Homo sapiens: one gene and its partners. The protein of the gene in region 2 interacts with the protein of the main gene of each other region in a pairwise test. Each region holds a gene or a part of one and is shown on either strand. Other genes may lie near its edges. The genes, in order: ZDHHC4, CLDND1 and CXCR1.

What was found.
Region 1: the proteins of CLDND1 (region 2) and ZDHHC4 interact in binary tests that used the Homo sapiens proteins (3 or more experiments, as listed by UniProt).
Region 3: the proteins of CLDND1 (region 2) and CXCR1 interact in binary tests that used the Homo sapiens proteins (3 or more experiments, as listed by UniProt).

What each region holds. Positions count from the first base shown.
Region 1 is NC_000007.14:6,573,020-6,580,543, forward strand, and holds the start of ZDHHC4 (palmitoyltransferase ZDHHC4), read left to right. Parts: upstream 1-4,434; 5' UTR 4,435-4,479; exon of another isoform or gene 4,480-4,701; intron 4,702-4,858; exon of another isoform or gene 4,859-4,953; intron 4,954-5,481; exon of another isoform or gene 5,482-5,546; 5' UTR 5,547-5,644; coding exon of another isoform or gene 5,645-5,701; exon of another isoform or gene 5,702-5,727; intron 5,728-7,524. UniProt on the Homo sapiens protein: Palmitoyltransferase that catalyzes the addition of palmitate onto protein substrates including the D(2) dopamine receptor DRD2, GSK3B or MAVS.
Region 2 is NC_000003.12:98,519,813-98,527,596, reverse strand, and holds the start of CLDND1 (claudin domain-containing protein 1), read left to right. Parts: upstream 1-4,694; 5' UTR 4,695-4,741; coding exon of another isoform or gene 4,742-4,748; exon of another isoform or gene 4,749-5,055; intron 5,056-5,893; exon of another isoform or gene 5,894-5,900; coding exon of another isoform or gene 5,901-5,944; intron 5,945-6,154; coding exon of another isoform or gene 6,155-6,172; coding exon 6,173-6,464; intron 6,465-7,784. UniProt on the Homo sapiens protein: Plays a role in negatively regulating the permeability of cells to small molecules.
Region 3 is NC_000002.12:218,163,963-218,170,927, forward strand, and holds the start of CXCR1 (C-X-C chemokine receptor type 1), read right to left. Parts: upstream 3,001-6,965; 5' UTR 2,946-3,000; intron 1,283-2,945; 5' UTR 1,250-1,282; coding exon 197-1,249; 3' UTR 1-196. UniProt on the Homo sapiens protein: Receptor to interleukin-8, which is a powerful neutrophils chemotactic factor. Binding of IL-8 to the receptor causes activation of neutrophils. This response is mediated via a G-protein that activates a phosphatidylinositol-calcium second messenger system.

The DNA of each region.
Region 1 (7,524 bases), on a different chromosome or scaffold from region 2:
CATGCCCCAAGCATCTCATGTTCTCACTCTTGCACCTTCATTCATCGGGGGTTGAATTTTTTTTTTTTTTTTGAGACGGAGTCTCACTCTGTTGCCCAGGCTGGAGTGCAGTGGCGTGATCTCTGCTCACTGCAACCTCTGCCTCCCGGGTTCAAGCGGTGCTCCTGCCTCAGCCTCCCGAGTAGCTGGGATTACAAGCACCCACCACCACACCCAGCTAATGTTTTGTGTTTTCAGTAGAGACGGGGTTTCTCCATGTTGGCCAGGGTGGTCTCGGACTCTGGACCTCAGGTGATCCACCCGCCTAGGTCTCCAAAAGTGCTGGGATTACAGGCATGAGCCACCGCACCCGGCCCTGGGTTGAATTTTTTTTTTTTTGAGACAGAGTCTCGCTCTGTCGCCCAGGCTGGAGTGCAGTGGCTTGATCTCAGCTCACTGCAAGCTCCGCCTCCCAGGTTCACGCCATTCTCCTGCCTCAGCCTCCCCAGTAGCTGGGACTACAGGCGCCCACCACCTCGCCCGGCTAATTTTTTTTTATGTTTTTAGTAGAGACGGGGTTTCACCGTGTTAGCCAGGATGGTCTCGATCTCCTGACCTCGTGATCTGCCCTCCTCGGCCTCCCAAAGTGCTGGGATTACAGGCATAAGCCACCATGCCCGGCCCTGGGTAGAATCTTAATTTGAAGAGACATTTTTGACACATTCCTTGCATCATTCCAGATATCACTTATTAGATGTCCACTGATTGATTGCCTACCTGGCCAGCATCCATGTACCTTCCCAGTAGGGCCCACACATCCTTCCAGAATCCAGCCCCTCACCTGAGCAACTCATGTGCTTTGGGGGAAACTGATCCTCTGTAGCTTCAGCAGGAGGCCTTGTTTTACCCAAGACAAAGGCCACATTCCATTTTCCTGGTGGCATCATGGTTCAGGGGTGAGTCTATGACCCAAGCCAGCTTAATCACACTGAATGTCAGTACTCCTACTTGGGCCTGGAGGGAGACCTCCCCACTCTCCCTTCACTGGATGTGGGTGTGGATGCATGAAGCCCCAGCTATGGCTGGTGGCCATCCCATCATCAGGAGGAAAGCTGGTCTTCAGATGAAGCTGATCTTCCAGTCAGAGTGAGGGATAAAAAGAACATTGATTCTTGATCATGCCATTGGGCTGCGGGTTCAAGTCATTCCTGAAGCCAGCATCATTTCTGGACATTCCAATGGCAGGGACCAAGATGTCTCTTTTGTTGTTTAATCTACTTTGAGGGCTGGGCGTGGTGGCTCACACCTGTAATCCCAGCACTTTGTGAGGCTGAGGCAGGTGGATCACCTGAGGTCAGGTGTTCAAGGCTAGTCTGGCCAACACGACGAAACCCTGTCTTTACTAAAAATACAAAAATTAGCTGAGTGTGGTGGCGCATGCCTGCAGTCTCAGATACTCGGGAGGCTGAGGCAGGAGAATCACTTGAACCCAGGAGGCAGAGGTTGCAGTGAGCTGAGATCCCGCCACTGCACTCCAGCCTGGGCAACAGAGCGAGACTGTCTCAAAAAAAAGAAAAAAAAAAAAAAAGGCACGGGGCAGCAATTACAGTAGCAAAGGCAAAGTGGAAATTTGGGTGTAAACTGGGCACCCATAATGTATGCTCCAAGCCAGCTAATAGTGACAACTGTGGCCCCACCTACTGGCCACAGGAATTTTTTTTGAGTGATATCAAGGATGTAGATTTCCTTCTGATATAAGTTATCATTTTCTTTCATTCATTCAGTTGATACATTTTTATTGGGCATCTACTATGAGCTAGGTGCTAAAATAGTTGCTACTGATATAACAGTAAGCCAACACAGATCCAGTCCTTTTTTTTTTCTTTTCTTTTCTTTTTTTTTTTTTTTGAGACAGGGTCTTGCTCTATTGCCCAAGCTGAAATACAGTGGCACAGTCATGGTTCACTGCAGTCTCAAATTCCTGGACTCAAGCAATCTTCCTGCCTCATCCTGCCTCAGCCTCCCCAAGTAGCTGAGACTACAGGTGTACACCACCACACCTAACTAATTGAAAACTTTTTTGTAGCGGTGAGGTCTCACTAGGTTGCTCAGCCTTGTCTTAAACTCCTGGTCTCAAGGGATCAGCCCTCCTCAGCCTCCCAAAGTGTTGGGATTACCGGTATAAGCCACTATGCATGGTTCAAAAATACTTTTATGTTCCTTTCCTTCTTCTTAATTTCTCCATGGCAAAATTCCTCATGGTCAATAAATCACTGATTGTAAACAAGCATCATGTGTGATATGCCTTTTGCAAGCGTAGCTACGAAGTCCTGTATCCCATTTCCAAAGTATAGCATCCATCATTCCCTTGGGGACAAGAGATCGTGGTGTAAAGCTGGTTGATCCTGTCAACTGATCTCACAGCAGGTAAAAAACTGATACTGCAGGTCCAGTTTCAGGAGCTGACAGGAGCGTTTAGCAACACTCCAAAGAGGAATTCTTTGCTCCATGCATCACAAGCAAGGCAATCCTTTTGATCACACTTGAATTTTTGGTTTTAAGCTTAAGTAGTCTGTTTTCTCTTATGCTATTTATAAAATGCAGGTGTCAAGGTTTGCGCTTGGATGTTTTAAAGAGGCAAAAAATCAAACATGCCTAGGTTTCAGGAACTGACCAAGTGCTGAGAGATTAATCTTTTTTTTTTTTTTTTTCTGAACCAGGGTCTTGTTTTGTGGTCCAGGCTGGAATGCAGTGGTGTGATCCTAACGCACTGCAGCCTTGACCTCCTGGGCTCAAACAATCCTCCCACCTCAGCTTCCTAAGTAGCTGGGACCACATGTGCATGCCAGCACACCCGGCTAATTTTTAAATTTTTTGTAGAGACAAGGTCTCCATATGTTGCCCAGACTGTTCCCAAACTCCTGGGCTCAAGCGATCCTCCCACCTCGGCCTCCTGAAGTGCTGGAATTATAGGTATGAGCCTTGGTTTTTCAATTCTGGGTCCATAAATTTATGAAGACCTTGGATACAATGTACACAGGAGAAGGCATCCTGTTGGTAAGGAGTTTCATAAAAAGGAAAAGAAAACGCATCAAGAAGCTGACGTAGGTAGCAAAGAGACAGGAAAAGAGAAGAGCTTTAAGGCCAGTGTTTGGAGATCAGACATTTCCCCTCAAAGGAGGACAGGCCTGGCTCAGGTCTTCAGAGGCATCAGGAATAGACCCTGGCCTCAGCTGATTCAGAGATGGTCAGAGCAAAGGACACCCCACAGGGCCTTCTCAGGGCTATGTTTGGAAGCAGCTCTTGTTACCCCAAGCCTGCCTAGCATCAAACACCCTTCCCTTTTATCCTCAACGTTTGTGGTCAAGTATTTGTCACTGCCCCGAGGATATTTAGGGCTGTACAGAGCAACATGTCCTTGTCATCAGGAGCAAGGACACACATGGAGCGGAATCTGACTGATGGGTACACATTGTGCTTTCTGCCCGCTTCTGCAACGGAAGATGCTGGAAATGTTCTGCTAGATCTCAACAGTGTGGGTGGCTGAAAGCAAACTCTGTCCACCACACAGACATAGTCTGAGAGCCCCCTAAGTGTGACTGCCCTGGGCCACCTGGATCCCCCTGCTGGGCTCTGAGCAGGGACATGACTGGTCTCTGTGCAGGCCGCAGGGCAGCTTAGTCCCTGTCACAGCCCCAGAATGATCGCCCCCACCAGGCCCAGGTCGGTCCTCCTGTAAGTCTCCTGGCAATACTGCTCTAAAATCCCACTTCCAGCCCAGTGCAGGGACTCACGCCTGTAATCTCAACACTCTGGGAGGCCGAGGTGGGAGGATCACTTGAGCCCGGGAGTTCGAGATCAGCTTGGGCAACATAGTGAGACACCCGTCTCTACAAAAAAAAAAAAAAAAAAAAAAAAATTAGGCGGGTGTGGTGGCATGCACCTGTGGTCCCAGCTACTTGGGAGGCTGAGGCAGGAGGCATTGCTTGAGCCCAGGAGTTGGAGGTTGTAGTGTGCTAGGATAGCGCCATTGCACTCCGGCTTGGGCGACAGAGCGAGGCTGTTTCTGAATGAATGAACGAATACATAAGTAAATAAGAAAATAGGTAATACATAAAATAAAATAAATAAAATAAAATAAAATAAAATAAAATAAAATAAAATAAAATAAATAAAATAAAATAAATAAAATAAAATAAATAAAATAAAATAAATAAAATAAAATAAATAAAATAAAATAAAATAAAATAAAATAAAATAAAATAAAATAAAATAAAATAAAATAAAATCGCACTTCCCAGCGGTTACACCCGGCCACGGAGGTCCCCAGGCTGGCTGCGAGGGCGCCGGGGAGGTCACTGTTACTCCAGCCCCGCAACCCGCGGCGGCCCTCGCACACTTCCGCCGGAAGTCAGCCCCTCAGGGGCGCCGTGCTGATGTCACGAGCCCGCAGGAAGTCTCGTATCGCGCCCGGGAGGCGCCGGAGCCCAGCGGCTGGCGGTAAGGCCGCCTCCGCGGGGCTGTGGGAAGCTTGGGCTGTCCCAGGACCGTCAGTCTCCTCCTCTGACCCTCCCTTTCCCCTTGTGTGTAGGGCCGCCGTCCCACCCCCACCTCGCCCGAGTCCGGGGCGGCCCCGGTGTCCCCTCCGAGCCTGCTGCACTCCACGTCCCCCTACCAGGGCTCCAGCCCCCAGGGAAATCTCCGACCAGGCCCGCCCAGGAGGTGCCTTGGATGGGGGTGGCTTCGGGAGGCCCTAATGGGGAGTGGCGGGGAGAGACCCAAGGCTACCGACTTGGCTTATTTCTTCCCAACTAGCTGTTTCTCACAAAGTCTTTATTATTATTGTATTTTGAGACGGGGTTTCGCTCTTGTTTCCCAGGCTGTAGTGCAGTGGCGCGATCTCGGCTTACTGCACCCTCCGCCTCCCGGATTCAAGCAATTCTGCCTCAGCCTCCCCAGTAGCTTGGATTACAGGCATGCGCCATCACGCCCAGCTAATTTTTTTTGTATTTAGTAGAGACGGATTTCACCATGTTGGTCAGGCTGGTCTCGAACTCCTGACCTCAGGTGTTCTACCCGCCTCGGCCTCCCAAAGTGCTGGGATTATAGGCGTGAGCCACCGCGCCCGGCCTCTTTTATTGTTTTTAGAGATGGGGTCCAGCTCTATGGCCCAGGCTGGAAGGCAGTGGCACGATCACAGCTCACTGCAGCCTCGACCTCCTGGGCTCAAGCCATCCTTCCACCTCAGCCTCCCAAGTAGCTGGGACCACAGGCGCGGGCCACCACGCCCCACTGATTTTTAAATTTTTATGTAGGGACAGTGATCTCACTGTGTTGCCCAGGCTGGTCTCGAACTCTTAACCTCAAGCTATCCTCCTGCCTGGGCCTCCCAAAGATTTGGGAGCAGGCCTAAGCAACTTAGTCTGGGCCATTTCTCCCAAAGTCTTACCCATTCATGCTGGGGGTGCTGAAAATCCCCTACTTCCAAATCCTTTTCCACAGGTATTCTGCCTTTGACTGCAACTCTTGTCGTCTTATGTGGGTGTTGAATTGATCTGTCTCTGCAGCCAGATCCAGGCTCCTGGAAGAACCATGTCCGGCAGCTACTGGTCATGCCAGGCACACACTGCTGCCCAAGAGGAGCTGCTGTTTGAATTATCTGTGAATGTTGGGAAGAGGAATGCCAGAGCTGCCGGCTGAAAATTACCCAACCAAGAGAAATGTAGGCTGGGTACCCTGAATCACCCCGTGAGAATTGCTGCTGTTTGTTTACTCTCACCTATCATGTCATGAATAGCTTCTTGTTTGGTTATCTCACTTGGCATTACAGCCCAGAATCTTATCTGCTAAGGTCAAAAGTGACCAGTTCCGGTATCTTTTTTGGTTTGTTTTTGAGACAGGGTCTCATGCTGTCGCCCAGGCTTGAACTCCTGTGCTCAAGCAATCCTCCCGCCTCAGCCTCCACAGGCATGCGCAACCACACTTGGCTAATTTTTGTATTTTTTGTAGAGATGGGGGTCTCGCTTTGTTGCCCAGGCTGGTCTTGAACTCCTGGGTTCAAGTGATCCTCCCACCTCAGCCTTCCAAAGTGCTGGGAGTACAGGCACGAGCCACTACGGCCGGCCAATTCCAGTACCTTTTTTTTCTTCTTTTTTTTTCTTAAACCGCTACACTATGGAAAAGAGTTCCAGTATCCAGTGTCTTTTCTTTTTTTTTTTTTGAAACGGAGTCTCGCTCTGTTGCCCAGGCTGGAGTGCAGTGGCGCGATCTCGGCTCACTGCAACCTCCGCTTCCTGGGTTCAAGAGATTCTCCTGCCTCCACCCCCTGAGTCGCTGGGATTACAGGCATGTGCCACCACGCCCGGTTAATTTTTGTGTTTTTAGTATAGATGGGGATTACACCATGTTGGCCAGACTGGTCTCGAACTCCTGACCTCGTGATCCGCCTGCCTCGACATGCCAAAGTGTTGGGATTACAGGCATGAGCCACCACGCTCGGCCTCAGTATCCAGTATTTTAACGCAGGCCTGTGTGTTGACTCTGGTTCCAGAGGGTAATTCCTGATGGTTGTGGCCAGTGTCCTGGAGGGATGCTTCTTAGGACAGGATGCCTGATTCTGGGTGCAGGGCTCCTGACTGCCTCTAGGAGATGCTTGTTCTCAAGGCATTGTCAGCAGATTCTTTGGGGACACATCTTGTATCTTTGTGAATATTTAAGGAAGTAAAAGAATGATTCATGCCTGGGGGCAAGGAAGGAGGATGCATGTTCTTTCTTGGTTTATTTTGGATTTGCAAGTTGGAGATGCTTCAAAGGCAGGCCACAGTCTTAGGGTGTTAGATTCAAAGTTTTTATCTTGGGCAGGTGCAGTGGCTCACGCCTGTACTCCCAGCACTTTGGGAGGCCGAGGCAGGTGGATCACCTGAGTTCAAGAGTTCGAGACCAGCCTGGCCAACATGGTGAAACCTCATCTCTACTAAAAATACAAAAATTAGCCAGGCATGGGGTGCGTGCCTATAATCCCAGCTACTCAGGAGGCTGAGGCAGGAGAATTGCTTGAACCTGGGAGGCGGAGGTTGCAGTGAGCCAAGATCACGCCACCGCACTGCAACCTGGGTAACAAGAGTGAAACTCTGTCTCAAAAAAAAAAAGTTTATCTTTCTTTTTTTATTTTTTATTTTATTAAATTGAGACAGGGCCTCACTATGTTGCCCAGGCTGGTCTCGAACTCCTGAGCTCAAGCGATCCACCCACCTCTGCTTCCCAGAGTGCTGGGATTACAGGCATGAGCCACTGCACCTGGCCCAGAATTTTTATCTTGATTGAGGGAGCTCAGGACCATTTTGGAGGCCCCACTGAGAGGCAGCAGGCCTCTGTTATGTGTGCCTAAGAATTGGTGAATTCTGTTCTGTTTGTCTTTCTGCTTTTTGCTTTGAGATGTCATTAAAGTCTAGATGAATTCTGTTTTGGTAGCCATTTGGGAGTTGATGTCTGAGAATGTGTGCCATGGAAGAAACCTTTCAGTAGCAGATAGTCACACTCTTTCTG
Region 2 (7,784 bases):
TTTAGATTTCTTCGAAATAGCAGATTTAATCTGAATTTAGGTTGTGCATAACAAAAATTATGTTTATTTATGTTGGTGTCCTTGGCATCCAGCAGAGTGTCTGGCAAGCAATAGATGGTCAATAAATGATTATAGATCTGGGATGAATCATGCTTGAATTTTGAGTTATTTCCGCAGAGTAGGGACTTTTCACAAACTTCTTAGACAGCTTCCATTTTCTATTCAGTCCTGGGATCTTTGTCACATCATAAACTAATATGAAGAGATGTTTCTAAGTTAATGCAGCACATTTTTTGTCAACTTATGCTTATGTTTTCACTTGGCACATCTTGTTGAATCAGAAGCAACTTGCAAACCAATAAATGTGAAAAATATCATTATCATGGCCTCATAATAAGTATGACGGATAGTGATGAGAAGAGGACTCTCTCAATGAAGACTCTTAAGTTTATTAATAATTAAATTAATTGATTATATTAGTTTCTTATCTGCAATAAGATTTTTTTTTGAAAAGTTATTTTTGGGAGGCCCACAATTCATACTCATAACTCTATACTAATAAGTGTCAATTAGAAGAAATCAGAAAAGTTTCCTTCCATAATTTTACCTTCATAATTACTGTTAATCTTTGAAATAGCAAGGGCTGTTTTTCGGTACCTTTTCTAATCAGAATGCATATAGTCTTCCTCCTTTTCCTTTGCAATCTACATTTGCCACTATCTCTGCTTCTAGTACATTGCCTAGGCTTGAGGTATAGGGTATATAAATTCTGCAATGAAACTCTAATGCTGTGGATCTATGAAAAACCGTATTTTGTAGTTGCATTATTCTTCTTCCAGTAGAATTATAAACTGTAAAATTTTAGAGCTTCAAGTGGTGTTAATGATCATTAGTACAACTGTTTTACTAAAGAGGACCCTAGGGTCCAGAAAGGGGTCATTAACCAAAGATCCATTGATAATTTTTAAATAAAGGATAATTTAAACTTAAACTTCTCATTTACATATGGGTCATTCACTGTCTTTCAGAAGCATGGGCATCTAAAAATTATAGTTTTTTACTATATGTGGCACTTTACAGGAATTACTAAAAAAAAAAAGGAGACATTTTAGGTGCACTTTTCTATTTGCCTTGATCTTGATTCTGTTATTGTTCTACAGTGAATGGGTGCAAGGAAATTCAAAGATAGGTACATTTTTAAAAATGGTTTTTGGTTGGAACCCAGAATTGTACATATTCCCATTTTTTTCCTTTCTGAACTCCAAAGTTCACAAGGGAAACAACCAGAAAAAAAATTACATGAAGAAACATAATGTAAATATATCTTATAATGTAGATATAACTTTTAGTTCCTAAAAATGTGCAATTAAAAATAAAATATTAAATGTATTGGGGAATTTAGTATTGATGGAAATTCTAGTGTGAAGGGTTGTTTCATAAGTACATAATAAAAACAAGTTACAACATCTGAGTATCTAGATTTTCAGTTATCGGTTTTATTTTAAATGTGCTATAACTATAATGCCTTCCGGTTGAAACTAGAACCATCTTTAACAAGTTAAGCTAGATGTCTCATTTAACTTCGCTTTTAAACCTAAATTCCATAATCTCTACATGGTTGCACAAAATCATCTTTCATATTTGTGAAAATATAAGGCTAGCTACCGTTTCTCAAACAGCAGAGTAAGAAGCAGAAGTAGAAATTTAGCTCCATTAATTAATTAAGGATTTATTTTACCTACTCATACAACAAGCAAGCATAAATAGAAATTAGGAAACACCAAAGATGCAGAGATAAACCAGAAATACGGTTGTGTGGTTGGTGAAACTGGGTGTGAAGAGGCCGTTCAGGTCCTCTCTCAGGATGATCAAAACCACAAACACGTAGAGACACCTCCAGGTTCACACTAGGTTGGTCAGTGAAATGCGTCCTGAGTGTTTTCTAGGCATTCTGAAGACTTGAAGGGTGCAAGTGTCATCCTCCTTTGCAGGTCTTCCCAGAAACATCCACCTCCTGAGTCATGGCGACTTGTGTATGATACGATCCCAGGCCTGGGAATCTCCTGAGAAGGGTTAAACAGGGATGCCCAAAATACTAGCCCTGGCAAATTTTTCCTAGTCATTTGGTGGTTAGTCCAGAGCTTCTCAAACCTGCTGAAGCGAGCAGGAACACCTCTCTGTATAAATGGCTTATCTCCATTTAGGGGTAGCCTCTAGGGTTAATCCAGGAGCTTTAAAAGCTGTCTGTCTTTTTCTGTCCTGTTTTTCCCGGTCGCCGCACGCTGTCCCGGTCCGCGCCTGCTCCCTGCGTGCCTTGTCGCCATGCCTCCGAAAATTGAGGAAATCAAGGACTTTCTGTTCACAGCCCAATGAAAGGATGCTGAATCTGTCAAGATCAAGAAAAATAAGGACAATGTGAAGTTTAAAGTTCGATGCAGCAGATATCTTTATACCCTGGTCATCAGTGAAAAAGAGAAGGCAGAAAAACTGAAGCCAGTCCCTGCCTCCTAGTTTGGTAGTGAAGGAGTTGAAATGAACCAGCCACACTGATTTGAACTGTATTAGAATACAAAAAAAAAAAAAAAAAAAGACTGTTCTCACTAAGCTTACTCAAATATTATATTCAACAAATATTTGCAAATACTAATAACTTAATGATTCTTTCCTAAACCTCAGGTCCTGTGCTGGGCGTTTTATATGTTTTTCTCAATCTTCACAATGATCATGTGGGATAGATGCTACTGTCAACATCCATATTTTGGAGAAAAGACAACCGAGACTTAAAGAAGGTTAATTCTCCAAAGTCACAAAATGAGTATATTCAAGTGTGTTACCATGGTAGTCAGTTACTCTAATATCCAAGTTTGCTACCAAGTCAGTTACTCTCTCTAGTTCCTTTATCTGTAGACTGAAGTTGTTTCTTCTCTCTCCTTTAAACTTCTCTTTTGCCTGGTTTACTGACCACATGATCTCAGTGGAGAGGTAAATCTGAAAGTGGGGAATTTCTTTTTTTGAGGCAGAGTCTTGTTCTGTCGCCCAGGCTGGAGTGCAGTGGCGTGATCTTGGCTCACTGCAAGCTCCGCCTCCCGGGTTCATGCCATTCTCCTGCCTCAGCCTCCCAAGTAGCTGGGACCACAAGCGCCTACCAACACGCCTGGCTAATTTTTTTGTATTTTTAGTAGAGACGGGGTTTCACCGTGTTAGCCAGGATGGTCTCGATCTCCCGACCTCGTGATCTGCCGCCTCGGCCTCCCAAAGTGCTGGGATTACAGGCGTGAGCCACCATGCCCGGCGGAAAATAGGGGATTTCTAATGAAGGCCAATGGATGAAGACATTTCCTGGAGTATAAGGGCATTTATGTGTCTTACTACACATTGACAATTTGCCTGTGCCTCTCCATCACTTTCTCTAGTTGGTGCCTCTGACAAATTTTTTTTTGATTATATGCTGTATATGAAAATCCAGAGTCATGTTTGAATATATTTGGCTACTACCTTATTATGTGCTGCATATGAATATCAGTTTCACCCACTCAGGTCAAAGAAATGTAAGTACAGATAGAGAAACATATCATGCCTTTAATCTGTCAAAGTGGTAGAAATTTAATATCAACTTGCAGCTCCCATCTTTCTCCTATGCTAAATTACAAGGCATTAGGGGACAGAGTGGGGGTTTGAGAGCCCCTCTGGTCCTTGAGTCAGCTTTCTCTGTCGGTTACTGTTGAGAAATCCACCATTTGCTGGTCCCAGGCCACGTTAATAGTTCCACTCATGTTATTGTTAAGATGTCCCTGCTTCCTGTCCATGAATTTCTGTGTTAAACCTGAGGGTTCAGAATCATTGTTGCCCCTGTGCCACACATCATCTGCAATCTCCAATGCTGTCCATGACCTTATCTGCTTGAGTGATGTTCCCCAAATTTCAGTCTTTTTCCTACTATACCCACAATTTTTTATTCATTTTTTGACATATCTGGTATCCTCAGTATTATTAACTTAATAGTTTTTAAAATAAGTGAAAAGAATTTAAAAGGAACAACATTGCTGCAATAGAAAACTAGTATCACTTGTCATAAAAAGAAGGCAGCTACAAACACATTTTATGAAACCCAAATAATATCATTACATTCTTGATGGATACTGTCTGCCAGGTCACATACTTCTTAGCCTAAACTTATGCAATAAAACCAGAAGGATGCTCTGCTCCAATGGGAGGGATTCTGGGAGAGGGAAATAAAATGGGTCAACGTTTCACAAGTAGAATCCCATTTTTGTTCATTTATACTTAGATCTAGAGGCAGGGTGGTGTGATAGGGAAAGCACAGGCCTAAAAGTCAGATCTAAGTTATACAAGTCACGGTCATTGACTCGAGATGACCGGAAACAGGCCCGCTTTACTTTCTGGACCATTCTCCCTTCCTCCCTAAAATGCAAGAATCCAACAGCCTAGACTTCCCTTCTGCGTACCGGCTTGCCCTGAGGAGCTGAACTACATCTCCCACAATGCGCCGCGCGCGGCGCCAGGAATGCCTATCGCCGCCTCAGACAGCTTTCAGTCTGTCCCTCCTACAACTCCCACAAGGCCCCTCGGCCCCGGGCCGCGGCCCGGCCCGGAGTGGGGGCGGGCGGAGGCGCGGGAGTTATGGAGGGGGCGGGCTCTGCAGGGAAGTGCGTCAGAGGAGGCGCGGGGAGAGTAGGGTGCTGTGGTCTGAGCTAGAGGGTGAAGCTGGCGGAGCAGGAGGATGGGCGGTGAGTGAGCGGGACCTGCGTCGCCGGGCAGGGGTCGCGTCGCGGTTCCATGTTCCCGGCGGTTTGAAGAGGGGCCCCCTTCCCGGGCGTGGTCGGGCTGGGCGGGTTCCGAGCGGCGGATTTGTCCCAGGGCCGAGCCCTCTAGGGCGGGGCCTGGTCGGGTACCGGGGGACCCTGGCCCGGGGCCGAGCACGGCTGCCCCGCCCCAGCCCTGGCCTTCTCCGGCCCCGCCGTGAGGCCCAGGAGGTGGCTGCTGCAGGCGTCCGGCTTGGACGAACCGCCGTTCCCAGTGCTGGGACCCTTTAAGGTCATTTGAGAGCACCAGGATGAAGGGGGGATTTTTAAAAAATCAAAATACAAATCCAACTTTTTGAGTTTTCGTTGTCATTGCTCTTATCTTTCCTGAGTCACTTCCCATTTTCCAAACTCAGCAACCCCAGTTTGCGAGTCTGTTTTCATGAACCTTTGTAAGGTGTTTGGTGCGGTCACGGTGTATACTTGCCGTGTAGTATTTGACTCAGCGCGATCTGCCTTGAGTCATTTTACCGCGGCCATTTACTACTGCCGTTGAGCCCTGTCCACGCCTTGGGAGTGTTGATATGTTGAGAGTTTTCTGTCTGGCTGAGGAGGGATCATTTAGTTTTTGCGGACGTATGTTGCACTGAGGATTTAGGGAGAGAGCAAGATTTCTGTTGAGGAGGTTCAGAAGTATAAGGAATCGGGAGAGTAGATAGGAGTGAAGCATTTGGCAGCGTAAAGAAGCTTGGCTTAGCTTTAATGGATTAGGGAGAGATTGCTATCTAGCATTATTACATGTTATTGTTCTCTTTGCTATTTTATACACCTAGAACAACCTTTCCCTCGGGGTTAACAAACATCTTCAACTCTGTTTTCTGTATGGCTCCTGACTCTTACCTTTGTTTTAGGAGGCTTCCCTCTTCAGAGGAAACTGGGAGAAGCCAATTTCCACTGCTTCTTTTTCCTGTGCCTTTTTAACACTCAAACCCAGAACACTTAATCCTCTGCAGCTCGTGCAAAAATTCAGTCTGTAATTTAAAATGTGTGCACGGTACACTGCTGACCATGGGCATGTCTATTGTTTGTATCTGTAATGTGTATGTCCATTTCAGTGTTGTCTGTTTTAGTATGCAGGTGATAGACTAGAGAACAAGACCTCTGTCTCCGTAGCATCCTGGGTATGTGAGCATTCAATAAGTACTTTTATGAGAATGAGTTTTGTTTTAAGCTTAATTAAAAACATGCTTGCTTTCTAAAAAAAATTCTTAATGGTTATATGTACGAAGGGATGGGGAATTGGGTAAAGGGTGCATTTGGAATAATTCAAAATAATCTTTCTTATTTGTCCGTAAACTCTAACTTATCTTCTTTCTTCAACTTCTAAACAGAGCAGTCTGAATGCCAGAATGGATAACCGTTTTGCTACAGCATTTGTAATTGCTTGTGTGCTTAGCCTCATTTCCACCATCTACATGGCAGCCTCCATTGGCACAGACTTCTGGTATGAATATCGAAGTCCAGTTCAAGAAAATTCCAGTGATTTGAATAAAAGCATCTGGGATGAATTCATTAGTGATGAGGCAGATGAAAAGACTTATAATGATGCACTTTTTCGATACAATGGCACAGTGGGATTGTGGAGACGGTGTATCACCATACCCAAAAACATGCATTGGTATAGCCCACCAGAAAGGACAGGTATTTCTCTTATTTTAACTTCTGTCTTCTTCACCTGGTTAATAATAGACAAAACGACGTAATGATTGCCCAATTACATGTAAGCAGGTTTGTTGGTTCTCTCTCTCCTTAAAGAAATAAATCGTGTATCTTCTCTTTCTACTGCCTTCTCTCCCCAACTTCTTTGCATTACCATGGTACTCATCAATATTGGTTGGATGAGGAACTTTTCTTATCTTGGGAAAGCCTTAATGGCTTTTTTTTTTCTTATTTACTCACTCATTAAAATACTTTTCATTACTCTAACACATGTTATAAAGAAATAGTTGGAAAAGTACATCGAAAGACTTTTAAAAATATTTGGTAACTAGTAAAAGGACTACCATCGAAAATCAACTCAAAAAATTGTCCTTTTATGGGTTAGCTGTATTATAATACATATCTATCATTTGCCCCTGTGTCTTAGAGGATATAATTTGACCAGCTCTACATTTAATCTGTGTAATTATGAGACTGTTTTACAACAATCTTGATGCAGAGTTGGTAGGTTAAGAAATTTGTATTACAGAAGTTAAAAAAAAAAAACCAAAAACTAGATTTTTAGGTTTATTTTACAGGCATTCTTATTTAACACTTAAAGATTTTGATTTCCAGTTATTAAAATGGTAGCTTTAGAACTCTTTGTAAGGAACAACTTTACAGTTTATTTATGACTACTTCTGTTGGCCCCTTAGTGGGGAAGCATTGTATTCAAATCATAGCAGAACAGGCTTGAGTTATGATATATCAAAAGGATGATAATATGTCACTGTATCTGGAAAAAAAGATAATTTGGAAGGAAAGGAGAGAAAGTTGGTTAAAATTCATTGTAAAATGTTCAGTTTGACTTATGAGGTTACAGGAGCACTTGATATTGAAATTGGAGTTGGAATTGGAGTGTTACCATTTAGTCATTCATTAAACAAATAATTTATTGCATGTCTCCATGTTCCAGGGCCTCTTAGCTGGGAGAACATCAGGAAAGAACAAAATCCTTACTCCTGGGGAGCTAGCATTCTAATAAAGGATGACAGGCAGTGAACAGAATATAACAGTATAAACAGAATAAATAATTATTCAGTATGTTAAAAGATGACATGTGCTATGGCAAAATAGAACACAAAAGGGATTTGGAAATATGTGGGAAAAGGAATATTGGTGGCCATAGGTTATGATTTTCAATAGGATACTTAAAGTAGGTCTCATTGAGAAGACACCACTTGAGTAAAGAATGTAGTTAAAGACTAGACAAAAGAGTTGGCCATATGGGTAAATGGGGAGGAAGTCATTTAGGTTGGAAAG
Region 3 (6,965 bases), on a different chromosome or scaffold from region 2:
CTTGGAGGTACCTCAACAGCTCCTCAGAAGGTTGGTGTGGCCCCTGAAGACACCAGTTCCTAACTTCCCCACATCCTATAGCGTCCCCCCAAAACCCAGATAGTGCCTGTCCAGAGCCAGATCACCTTCCACACACAACCTCAGGGTGTTGGTTATTCTTTCCTTCTGAGAAGAGATATTCCTTCATCGATGGTTTTCAGAGGTTGGAAGAGACATTGACAGACGAAGAAGTGTAGGAGGTAACACGATGACGTGCCAAGAACTCCTTGCTGACCAGGCCATGCATAGCCAGGATCTTGAGGAATCCATGGCGAAAATTTTGGCCGATGAAGGCGTAGATGATGGGGTTGAGGCAGCTATGGAGAAATCCCAGAATCTCAGTGGCATCCAGGGCCCGGCCGATGTTGTTGCGGCGCTCACAGCTCTCCTGGATCACCTGGGTCCTCATGAGGGTGTCTGCCAGCAGGACCAGGTTGTAGGGCAGCCAGCAAAGCAGGAAGATGAGGACGACAGCAAAGATGACCCTCATGGCTCGGTGCTTCTGCCCCATGTGGGCCTTAAACAGTGTACGCAGGGTGAATCCATAGCAGAACAGCATGACAAACAGCGGCACGATGAAGCCAAAGGTGTGAGGCAGGATCCGCAACACCATCCGCCATTTTGCTGTGTCATTTCCCAGGACCTCATAGCAAACTGGACTGGAATTGTTTGGATGGTAAGCCTGGCGGAAAAGGAAGAAGGGCAGGGACAGATTCATAGACAGTCCCCAGCAGCCAAGACAAACAAACTTGACCAAGTGACGCTTCTGGGTCAGTGTGCGTGTGGCATGGACAATGGCCAGGTAACGGTCCACACTGATGCAGGCCAACAGCAGGATGCCACTGTAGAAGTTGACTTCCTTCAGGAGTGAGACCACCTTGCACAGGAATGTGCCAAAAATCCAGCCATTCACCTTGGAGGCGGCCCAGATGGGCAAGGTCAGGGCAAAGAGTAGGTCGGCCAAGGCCAGGTTCAGCAGGTAGACATCAGTGACGGAGCGGCCGACCCTGCTGTATAAGATGACCAGCATCACCAGGGAGTTTCCCAGCAGGCTCAGCAGGAACACTAGGGCATAGGCGATGATCACAACATACTTGTTGAGTGTCTCAGTTTCTAGCATACAGGGGCTGTAATCTTCATCTGCAGGTGGCATGCCAGTGAAATTTAGATCATCAAAATCCCACATCTGTGGATCTGTAATATTTGACATGTCCTCTTCAGTTTCAGCAATGGTTTGATCTAACTGGAAGGTTAGAAGGAAGGAAATGTGATTTAGTAGCTCGGATTCAAGGCATTCTCATCAATGATGTGAGAGCAGTTACTGGGATATCCTTGGCTTCCCTGTTGGTTTGGCAATGAGAGCTCTCCTTCCTCCTTTGACTCCAACCTGGTCTTCTTCGGAGGTTGGCTTCCCAGTGTTCTCCACCTTCCACAACTCTAAGGCCTGGCCTGAGTGTGGGGTAAGATGGAATATGGGGAAAACACCTTAGCCCTAGCTCAACCTACAACTGCCTCCTCTCAGCCTATGTCTCTACCTCTGTCCCTCTTTAGCCTTCTCCATCCTCAGCTGTGTCTGTGCATTTGGATGTGGGGACCAGGTTGGTCTTAGACATTCAGGGAAGGGCCAGCATTAAGCAAAATGCAAGAAGGCAAACCTGTTCCCAGGTGTCCCCTTCTACTATTTCTATTCCTATGTTCTCCCTGATTCTTGTTTACCCTCCTTAAAATCTACTGGGGGAAGGAAGTGATAACAACACATTGCATTAAACTGTATATTTTAAGCCTTCTTTAAATGAGGAGCACATATTTTGTTCCTCTGTCTAAAGGAGTTTTAAGTATTTGAGAAGATAAAGTCTCCATCTTGGTCCCTGAAACCCTCCACCCCTGAAAAAATCCACAGAATCATTCAAGAGTTTTCAAATATATTTCCTATTGTGAAATAGTTTACTGAAATAAGATCTTCCCAGAAGCCCAGTATGTGAAGCAGATAAAAGCTGAGCCACTGTGGGGCAGAGTGTGCTAATCTCCGAACCCAGATGGCCCCTAAAGAGCCCCTCAAAGCTCCAGGACTCTCCAGAGAAGTCTGAAAGCCTTTGGAAAGTCACCGAGGTTGGTTGTAAAGACACCTAGCATCCAGTCTTCATTCCATCCTGATTCTACCATTAATAAGTTTCGTGTGTAATCCCAGCCCTTTGGGAGGCCAAGGCAGGCAGATCATGAAGTCAGGAGTTCGAGACCAGCCTGACCAAAATGATGAAACCCCGTCTCTACTAAAAATACAAAAAAATTAGCTGGGTGTGGTGGCGTGCACCTGTAATCCCAACTACTCAGGAGGCTGAGGCAGGAGAATCACTTGAACCCGGGAAATGGAGGTTGCAGTGAGCCGAGATCGTGCCACAGTACTACAGCCTAGGCGACAGAGTGAGACTCCATCTCAAAATAAATAAATAAATAAATAAATAAGTCTCATGACCTTGAGTGGGGTCTCGTACCCCTATAGATTTCAGTCTTCTCATCTGCAAATCGAGGAAGACAGAATCATCCACCTCTCATTTGCTGCCAGGCCTGAGGGTGTATGATGAGTCCACTCAGATCCACACATTTTAGTGTGTTCCCTCCCTACCAGTATTTGCATTTTCACTGAAGACAAAGTCTTAAGGTGAAGCAATAAACATCAAATTGGGGAATGGTCAGCCTCTTCCCACAAAAGGGCAAGGTATAAAAAGAGGGGATGAGGAGGCTGTCCTCTTCACCTGCTAACTCCATGTATGAGTGGTGGTCACAAGAGAGGAAGCGGGCAGCAGAAATCCTCAGCTCCCACAGAAATGAATACATTTTCCAAAATAAAGTCAAGCCAAGCAGCCCTACCCCACAGAAAGTCCTAGCAAACAGAGGTGGCTTCCTACCTGAAGCACCGGCCAGGTGTGTCCAACAGTAGGAGCTGCAGTCAGAGATCAGAGTGACTTAACAGCTAGAGGGCACTTGATGAATAAACGGAAATAAGGAAACCACATCAGATGACACCTCCCTTCTGAGCCCCACCCATGTCTACATTTGGGGAAGAACAGTTTAAGTCAAGGGATCACAGACTTGTGATTAGAGACTGCCAGGGTCCATATGACCAAGTGGGGGTCCCAGGTGTGAAGCTGGGGTTGAGGGTCCATTATCTGAATTCTCCACTCTATGGATGATCATTTTTATTATTTTCCTTTTCTTGAATTTATTTCCATTTGTTTATTCCTAAATTCCCTAGTATATCACCTGTGGAAGCTTGCAACTTCCTGACCAAGTATAAAGGGCGAAGGATTTGACTTACAGCAGAGACTTCAGAAGGAGTCCCCCATAGGAGGGACTTGGGGGCAATCCAGTGGGAAAGAGGAGGAGGACTGCGCTTGAGTTGTGTTTGAACAGCAGGCACTCAATCTCTACTTATTTTGCAGGCTTCTTTGAGGTGGCCTAGCTCGGATTCAAGGCATTCTCATCAAGGATGTGAGAGCAGTTACTGGGATATCCTTGGCTTCCCTGTTGGTTTGCCAACGAGAGCTCCCCTTCCTCCTTTGCCTCCAACCTGGTCTTCTTTGGAGGTTGGCTTCCCAGTGTTCTCCACCTTCCACAACTCCAAGGCCTGGCCTCAATCTCTACTTATTTTTCAGGCTTTTTGAGGGTATTTGAATGGAACACAAACCCTCCTTTGCCGCCAGCCACTCTTTCGCACAATCACTGCCAATGACCAGTTGGTTTAAATGGCCCTGAGGCTGACGGCATAGGCCACTCCCAGAGTCTGGCTGGTTAGCAGAGAGACCACAGAGCTGGGGCAGTCCATGAATGGAAGAGCTGTGGTCAAGGTCACTGCAGCCCCCATCTCAGTAACGGAGAATGGCTTCTCTGGGAACCCACCTTAGCTGCCTCCAGCAGCTAATGGCTGTCCCCTAGCTTGAGTCTTCTGGCACCTTCGTCACTTCTCCATATAACATGAACCCTGCTGTGAGGCATTTACAAGTCAGCCCTCTTCTAGCTTGGGAGCCATGAGACAGCAAGAACCTTCTTCAATTCATGTTTATGTTCTCTTTCAGGGAATATAGTAGGTGCTCAATCAATGGTTGTGGAATAAATGAAGGGAGACATTTCTCCTGTGATTCATGGACCATAAGTCACCACCACGATTCAGTGTCTATTGCTTTTGGCTACACACTAAAGTCACTGGTATGCCTGATAGCTTCACTTCCACACAGCCCAGTTGGTCTGCCTGGCATTGCTTCTTTCCAACCTTCCTCTAATGTTTGGAGCTAATGCCAGTCTGTGCAAGTATAAATCCTGCCCTACCACAAATGCCAAATTTACCATGCCATGGATTCCTACAGTTCTGCACTGGAAAGAATTTTTTTCTTTTTTTAAGAGACAGGCTCTCACTGTGTTGCCAAGGCTAGAATGCAGTGGTGTGATCATAGCTCAGTGTAACCTCAAATGCCTGGGCTCAAGCAATCCTCCCACCTCAACCTCCTGAATAGCTGGGACTACAGGCAAGAGCCACTACATCTGGCTTTCTTTTTTTATATTATATTTTTATTTTTATTTTTTATTTAGTTATTTATTTATTTGTAGAGAAAGGGTCCTGATATACTGCCCAGGCTTATCTTGAACTCCTAGCCTCTAGTGATCCTCCTGCCTTTGCCTCCCAAAGCACTGGGATTACAGGCATAAGCCACCATGCCCAGCCGGCAAGCCTATTTTTTAAGCTAAGTTGTGCTTTCCTCCTGGGCTCTTTTATCATTCATAGATGGTAACAGGAAGTGTAAGGGGACAATAGCCACTCATGCTTTGCTTTTACTGATGTTGGACTATTGTGCTCTAACGCCTAGACTAGAAAGGAGTCAAAGATGGGGTAGTCCCAGGAGGTGGGAGACTCCCTCTATTAATCATCTAGGGAAAATCAGCCCCAAGGGCAGAAAATAGTCACTGGGGACACAGGAGAAAAAAGACGGGGGCCTAGACTGCAAAACACCTGCCTATACTCAAGAAAGACCCTGAGGCCGGGAGAAGGATAGTTTTTGCCACAAGGGGGCAGCAGTTGCTAGACAGGGAATCCCCTGTGAGACACCCCCTTGAGAAAGACCAGGGCCAAGAGCAGGTATATTTAACACCGTATGTTAAGTTCTTCTTGGTGTATAGTTCCCTTCTGCTTTTCCTAAACCCTCAGTAAGTCGGTTCACTATTCCAGTCTATTTCAAGGAATCACTGAGGGGTTAGGGAAGAGGCTGGTCTCCTGGAGCCCGAGGAGTGAAGGGGAGCAGCCCTGCTGCATGAGTGTGGTGAGGGCAACAGCAATGCTGGGGTCTCCAGGAGAAGTTGCATCTGGAGGACAAGGGTGGAAAGAACCTTTCACTTCGCAGTAGGACGAGCATTTCACTGAAGGAGGGAGAAAGCACATATAGATGAGTTTAGAATAAAATTTTACCCACTTCAAAATGTTCCAGCAAGTCAGCCCACCCAACCTATCTTCTATACCTCACTTCCCACTTATAACTGTGCCCTCTTAAAATGGCCTAGAATGTTCCTGCTGAGAAGCATTTTTCCATTCCATGTAGAGCTCCTAATGCCACAAAGAAAGCTGTGACAGGTGCAGCCCGAATGCCAGTCAACTGGCAAAATGTAGTATCTCTTTGGGTGACATCTTCTTACCACTCTGTTTTAAACATGATGACTTCTGCACAGACCATGTGAACAGCACAATGTGGCTGTAAGAACATCTATTTTGTCCCTGCATCAGCCTTATGCCAGCTTCAGCATCTCTTCTCATTCCTCCAGAAGAATCCACTTGGATCTGGGATCAAAGTAGAGGAAAGGGGTAGAGGGAGGTTTCTCCTCTCTCCCCAGTGACGTCCTCGTAACCACAGCAACAGGCTCAGGGAGTGAGTCTGTGACCCAAGATGATCCAGTCAGAGCAAAGTTCAGATGTTTGCTCAATGAATGTGGAAAAGCAAGTATATAGTCTTGTTGCAGTCAGCAGCCATTTTGCTACCATAAATGGCAAAAACAGTCCAAGGAAAAAACCAACACACAGAAGAAGGCAGAGTTGAGAGAATCAGAGAAACAGACCAAGAGTCCTGAACAAACCATGCCCAGAGGCCATCTTCTCTCTGTACTTTCTTCGGTTCCATGAGCCAATAAATTGTCTTTATTGTTAAGACCAGTTTAAGTTGACTTTTCTGTTACCAGCAACCAAAACATGCCCAACTGTGAGAGTTCTGGAAACCAAATGTGGTCTAGGATGAGAGGAGCAGGGAGTAGTGTCAGTGAGACACTGGGTCAAGGCTGCAGTGGTAAAGATACAGGGGCATTGACAGACACGTGACCTAGCCAGGTGCAGACCTCCCAGCCCTGATCTCCAGTCTCCAGAGGAAGCCAGAGAAGGACCTTGAAAAGTGAGCATATTTGTTTCCTGCAATCTCCGTTTTAAAACTAAAATTAAATTTAAAAATTATTTCCTGCAATCTCAATTTTTTTTAAAAAAATTAACAAATAAATAAATAGGCCAGGCATGGTGGCTTATGCCTGTAATCCCAACACTTTGAGAGGCCAATGTGGGAGGATTGCTTGAGTTCAGGAGTTCAAGACAAGCCTGGGCAACATAGCAAGACCTATCTCTCTAAAAATAAAAAGTAAAAGTAAAAATTAGCTGGGCATGGTGGTGTGTGCCTGTAGTCCCAGCTATTAGGGAGGGTGAGGCAGGAGGATCACTTAAGCCAGAAAGGTCAAGGCTACAATGAGCTATGATCACACCACTGCACTCCAGCCTGGGTGATGAAGTGAGATCCTGTCTCTAAATAAATAAATAAAGTGAGCCTGGGCAACGTAGTGACACCCATCTCTACAAAAATGTTTTAATTATCTGGATGTACTAGCACACACCTATAGTCCCAGCTACA